2 linked regions of the Homo sapiens genome follow. The protein of the gene in region 1 purifies or fractionates together with the protein of each later gene. This does not show direct contact. Each region holds a gene or a part of one and is shown on either strand. Other genes may lie near its edges. The genes, in order: GADL1 and ANKMY2.

What was found.
Region 2: the proteins of GADL1 (region 1) and ANKMY2 purify together in Homo sapiens (affinity purification with mass spectrometry; one large-scale study listed by BioGRID and IntAct). This does not show direct contact.

Annotation. Positions count from the first base shown.
Region 1 is NC_000003.12:30,728,180-30,730,995, reverse strand, and holds part of GADL1 (acidic amino acid decarboxylase GADL1), read left to right. Parts: intron 1-2,580; coding exon 2,581-2,754; 3' UTR 2,755-2,816. UniProt on the Homo sapiens protein: May catalyze the decarboxylation of L-aspartate, 3-sulfino-L-alanine (cysteine sulfinic acid), and L-cysteate to beta-alanine, hypotaurine and taurine, respectively. Does not exhibit any decarboxylation activity toward glutamate.
Region 2 is NC_000007.14:16,607,607-16,611,440, reverse strand, and holds part of ANKMY2 (ankyrin repeat and MYND domain-containing protein 2), read left to right. Parts: intron 1-677; coding exon 678-892; intron 893-1,675; coding exon 1,676-1,811; intron 1,812-3,834. UniProt on the Homo sapiens protein: May be involved in the trafficking of signaling proteins to the cilia.

The sequences.
Region 1 (2,816 bases):
TAAGTCAAAGCGTGGTTCTCCATTGCCCTGTGGCCAGAGAGATTTTAAAAGCAGTACAATATGGTGGGTCAGAGGTTTAAATTATATGTGAGTGTGTATATTAACATGTGCATATATGCACAGGCACACACACACACACATGCTTATGCACGCAGACCCATTTATATCCACATATGCACGAGAAGCCCTCCTACCTAAGGTGAGGAGGATTAGTCAGGTAAAGCAAATAATTCTAGAAAATAATGTGATACATACATAATGTGAGCATTTTCCCATTTAATATTTGTATCTTTATATTTAAATTTTTAATGTTATATTTGTATATCAGTGTACATTTATGTTACCATCTTTTGATGGAAAGGTTTTTTCCACCTAGTGAAGATTTCCAAATGCTTTTTATAAACAAGTGAAACTTTTCTTAAGTAGAGGTCTGATGATGAGAGGGCCCTCCACTGTTCTTGCATAAACTACATTCTTCAGGAATCATCTGTCTTATGCAGCTCGGGTTTCTTCAGGTGAAGTAAGTACTCAGACACCTGTGTAGCGATCTCCGTGCAGAATCAGTCTGGATTCTCAAAAGCTTTTACAGTTCTCTTGCCTAGTGTGATCACAATGATGTTTAGCCATCCCCCTTTATCTCTTCTTTCCAAAGGACTCAACTTAGTTTTTACAAAAATCACTTTTTTTGGCACTCATCTATCTTTGTTTTACATATTTTTTTACTAGATTTTAGAATTACTACTTGCATACATGGATTTGGAAGAAAACTCAACCAATGCATACAAATTCATGGGTTTGAAGCAGATATGTATAAGCATAGTAGAGAGTTACTTCCTAGCTTCTGGCTTCCAGCATCAACTGGACATTTGCCACTCTTTTCAAGTGAATGCAGGCTGTTGTTTAGTTACATTTTTCTAATCTCTAGAAAGCTCAGAATAAAATGTGTCACATATATTTAGAAGTTTGTAGAACCTGATGGCCCATGCTTTTTTCACTAACTTGACCTCTAACATCACCTTTTCTACATTTTTTCTTTTACACTCATATATTTTCTTTTCATATCTTGTGATAATGTAAGAAACTTCCAGTTTTTTGCTAGAATGGCAATGTGATTTTCCTGAATAGGTGTTTGTTTTGTTATTGCAAGCACTGTGTAGTCCATGTTTTGCAAGACTTATATTCTAAAATTAGTACATGTGGAAAAAAAAGTGTTGAGTTAAAATTAACCTTGAACATCCTTTGAGAAGGCTCTGTGGTTAAGTTCAACACATAATATCTTCAGAGGTCTAAAACACCCAATTTTTTCATCAGCTTTGGAACAGATCAAGATTGTGTTGAGTGTCAGATGAAGTCATTTGACTTGCTGACAAAATGTGGGTATGTTCAAAAACTGGGCTGGTGTGGGATTATCACATTACGAGAGAGGGAGACTCGTGGGAACCCAGATTCATGCCCCTCACCTAAGGAGTTTAAAAGCACACTCTGCCTGGTGTTCTTTCTATATGTACTCCTCCCTTCTGGAGGAGTAAGTCTCATCTTCCTGAGAAGGCAAGGATAGAAACTCATTATATTCCCTTTCCACATATTCACATAGGACACACTCAAAAAGTTTTCAGAGTTAAAATAAAATTCAAGTGGAAAAACTTTGCTTGTATTTCCAAGACAGTAAAAATGCATTCTTAATATTTTAACTCAGTGTATCAAAAATGAACTTCACTATTTTAAAAGTTTACAACCTAGCTCTTTGGTGGCCATACTACTGATTAGAAAATGGACTGATTTTCCCATGTGGTTCTTAAATTAGACTAGTTTCTTCAAACATTAAACTTTTAGAAAAATCTGTGTATCTGGATTATCAGGGCCTGTACTTCTCATGTCAGCTATAGATCTTTAAAATATGTGCTTCCTAATTTTATTACCACATTTACATCTCTTAATAAGAGACAGGGTGTTTATATTTCATATATGAGAATAATATCTAACTTTCTTTTTTTCTAGGATGAAAAATACATGTTCTATTAATAAATTAATAAACTTAGGCTTCAAAATAGAACTGTACATAATATCCATATTTGTTTTTTCTTGGTAGACAACTGGAAGGGTTTCCTTCTTTTCCATCTATGACTAATTTTCTTTATTCAAGATACCTGAACTGGGGTGTTTTTTAGTTAAGACAAATTTGAGAATGAGACTGTAATCCCTGTGGACACCTGATTTGTTTTTAATGAGGCAGCATTGAATAATGATTTACACTTAAGAGTATGGGCTTAGGGAGAAAATGCCTGGGACCTTGAGATACTGATTTACTCGCCATGTACCTGTTTTCTCGACCATAAATGGGCACATTAGTAGCATCTTCCTCACTGTTATTGTGAAGATTAATTAATATGTCTAAAGCACTTGAATCAGTACTCATGAGTCCTCCATAAATTATTATTATTATTAGTGTCAACCTTGTGTGAATGAGAATGGGATCCAAACCAGTGGATGCCCAGTAAATGTCCAATGGCTGGTGAAAATGCTATTGAAATGCCTTGATGTTCTGGTCTTTCACCCCTCTCCCCTTTTCTCCCCACACAGGTGGCCCCAGCCATTAAGGAGAGGATGATGAAGAAGGGAAGCTTGATGCTGGGCTACCAGCCGCACCGGGGAAAGGTCAACTTCTTCCGCCAGGTGGTGATCAGCCCTCAAGTGAGCCGGGAGGACATGGACTTCCTCCTGGATGAGATAGACTTACTGGGTAAAGACATGTAGCTGTGGCTTTGGTCCCCCAGAGGCATAGATCCTATCCTGGGAGAGTTTAGATCCAGAACATC
Region 2 (3,834 bases), on another chromosome or scaffold:
AGCATAATCTGTGCATACATAGGAAATGTGGGACTCATAACGTGTAAGATTTGATCATTCTAATATTTCCCCTTTAAAGTTATTTATGGCTTCCTCTTTGACCTGTTCTCATTACTGTAGATGATTGGAAGCATCTTCAGGAAAATTTCCATAGAGAAATATAGTTAATTGGAAAGTAAAGCATATTTCATTTTTAGACTTCATTCTGAAAAAATCTCATTTTCTTGTGCTTAATAAGAATTAATGAGAATTGTAGTTCTCCTAGCCATGAAATTCTAGAGCTGAGTAATGTTAACTAAAAGTGGTTATTGCTCAATGATTTGATTCTTTATGTAAAATGTACAAATTTGTCATGTTTATCTTTAGTAAAAGTGAATTTAACAGAGACTGTAAAATCATGTGCTCTTGAATGGCATACTGGCACTGTGGTGTAGGTAGATGGAAGATCACATTATAACTTTGATATACAGAGTTCAAGAGATTCCACTATTTCAGGGTCTTTCTATATTAGTTCTATAAGTTCTGGGTAATTTGCATTCTAACAAATAACATAATAACTTCATGATCCTAAGGAAGGCTTTCTTTGGTAATCTTTTGAAATCAACTAAATGGACTACCTAATTTGTACATGAACAAGTGTCTCCTTTAATACCTGAGTACACTGGGATTTCCTCTAGATCGTGATGCTTGTAAATGAGAATCCTCTGCTGACAGAAGAAGCAGCCCTGAATAAATGCTACAGAGTGATGGATTTGATTTGTGAGAAATGTATGAAGCAAAGAGACATGAATGAAGTATTGGCTATGAAGATGCATTACATAAGCTGTATCTTTCAGAAATGCATTAACTTCTTAAAAGATGGAGAGAATAAACTGGACACCTTGATCAAAAGGTACTCTTTTTACTATGTCGTTTATAAAATACACTCAAGTGAATATTTTTTTTAATATGAAGCCTCATTATTATGTGTTTCAAAATTAAACATTTTGGCAGCAATTGCTGTTGTTGGACTCACATTTAGTCTTTGACAAACAGAGAATAATATTATACTTATATTGAGTGATTATTCAGTTCTGTATCCTTTACTGTGATGTTTTTGTTGTTACCAGCAATTTACAGATGAGGAATCTGAGGTTTGGAGAGGTTAAATAACATGTGTAAGATCACACCGCGAGAAAGTGGCCCAAGTCCAAATTTGAGAATATTTTATGCCCTAGGTCGCAGCCCTAGGTTTGTAATGGCATCCAGGGTGTCTCTGTTACTGTATCTTGGAGAGCTGTGTGTTATGCTGCTTCTCTGACCACCAGAGATCAAATTCTCTTGCATCCTTACCTAGAAAAGGGAACTAAGTCTGAAGGGTGTGGCTCTATGAGAGTTTTCATTCTTAGTACAAATAACTGACATGGTAATAAGTAACTAGCTAATCTGATAACAGTGTTTAGTGTGTTTTATGGTGGTAGTCACCTTTGCATATTCATTTAATGGGCTGGAAAACCTTATAAGGCCTAGCCTAACATATAGGTTGAACAGCAATTTGAACTGAGCCCGTCATCATGATTTGAAGAGACAAAGAAAATCATAAGTAACAGAAGAAACTACTAAAAACTGTTGGGTTCAACTAGGAGAGAATGCTTAGTGATTCAACTCCAATTACGCTTTAAAAAATATCTTTCAGCTTGTTAAAAGGCCGAGCTTCTGATGGCTTTCCAGTGTATCAAGAAAAGATCATTAGAGAAAGTATCAGAAAATTTCCTTACTGTGAAGCTACACTCCTCCAGCAGCTGGTTCGAAGCATTGCTCCTGTTGAAATTGTAAGGCTCCTCTTACCTAAGTTGACTCTATCAGTAAAACCTAATTCCCACCTATTGTATTGTTAAAGGCAAGTTCTCTTTAATATTTATTTTTATTATTTCAGAATATTTTTAGGAACAAAGGTGGAGATAGGTTTGCCTGCCAAACCTGTTCCTGTTTATTTATTTCCCATCTCACGATCCTCTTCTTACCTTATTATGGTTCATAGTTTCATAAACAGGACGTCGCTATGTTGAAATGTAGATGGTTAGGGTAGAAACTTACATTTTAAGTACATCCACTATGTAATATAGGTACACACATGTACACTTGTAGCTATATGAATTATCAGCACAAAGTCATACACTAGATGCAAGTATGAATTGATCACCTAGGGGGATAGTGTCCAGGCAGTGGGGATGTAGTGGGATAAGCCATGGGAAGGCTCATTGTGGTTCCTGGTAACAATCTCAAAGTATGCCTCAGCTTCCTATAATCCACCTTAATGCCTCTGATTAGAAAATGTCCATACTTACAACCTATTTATACTTACCCACTATATAAGTGTATTTTGTTAACTTTATCTGTTATTTAAATGACTTACTATTCATTTGTCATATATTTTAATTTATTTGGCCTTTTCTATTTTGCGACAGAGTCTGTTTCTGTCGCCTAGGCTGGAGTGCAGTGGCACAATCTCAGCTCACTGCAACCTCCATTTCCCAGGTTCAAGCGATTCTCCTGCTTCAGCCTCCTGAGTGGCTGGGACTATAGGTGCGCGCCACCACGCCCAGCTAATTTTTGTATTTTTAGTAGAGATGGGATTTCACCATGTTGACCAGGTTGGTCTCGAACTCCTGACTCAGGTGATCTACCCACCTCGGCTTCCCAAAGTGCTGGGATTACAGGCATGACCCACTGCGCCCAGCCACCTTTTCTATTTTGAATAGGTTTTTGTTTACCCTATCTATACCCATTCATGCTTTTATACGTTTCAATCAAAAACTTGATCAGCTTTTGTCTATCAGGCAAGAAATTGATCCTAAGACCAGTCCCATCCATGGCTTCCTCCCTCCCTCTGGCAAATCTGGTTCCCTTCTCTGTGCCTTCTCTCTGGGTTGTTATGTCATTCTCAGTGTGGAACATCAGGGCTTCAAGTGGGCTCCAGATGCTCCTTTGTACATTAAGAATTCACCTAGTCTGAGCCATAAAATAAACAAGAAAGACCTGAGCAGAAAAGACCATCTCATAAAGCTCATGCATTAATTTGTTCATGTGTGCTCCCCCTATTTTCAAGAGTTTCTTTACTCATACTTTTTAATATAGTTGGCTATTTAGTGTTTATGCTTTTGGAAGAATAAAGTTAGCAAATTATGATTTGTCAATTACAAATGTGTCTTGGCAGCACATATCAAAGCCCAACCAACCATGAATTAAATAGATGAGGGTTTATGTATTCACATATACATAGATGCCCAAAGGTAGGCAGACTAGGTCTGGCATAGTGACTTAAAAATAGTTTGGGGACCCAAACACTTTCTCATCTTTCCCTTCCAATATTCCTTAGCTGTGTAGGTTCTCATATGCATACTTATGATCTCATGGTTACGAGGCATTTGATGTTCCTCCTCCAGCTCACATTCCTATCCCAGGCAGGCAGGAAGAGCAAAGGGGTCTATATCTGGAAAACATAAGCTCTCCCAGAAGCCCTCTGCCTGTGTCACATGACTTTCCTTAGCTACACAGGAGTCCAGGAAAATTTTTTTTTTTGGCTTTTCTAAACACTCCTCCTCTGAACAAAATTACACTTCTGTTACTGAGGAAGCTGGGAGAATTGATATCAGAGAAGCAACTAGCAGTACCTGTTATGTGGGATTTCCAGCACTCACAAATGGTTGCTGACCTTTTACCTTCCTGGGAAAAAACAGAAAAACTAAAACAGCAACCCAGAGTTCTTTAAAAAAAAAAAAAAAAAAAAAAAGCAGGTCAATATTGTGGTCAACAAGTTATCCTAGCTCCATATAATAGAATAATGTAATTAGA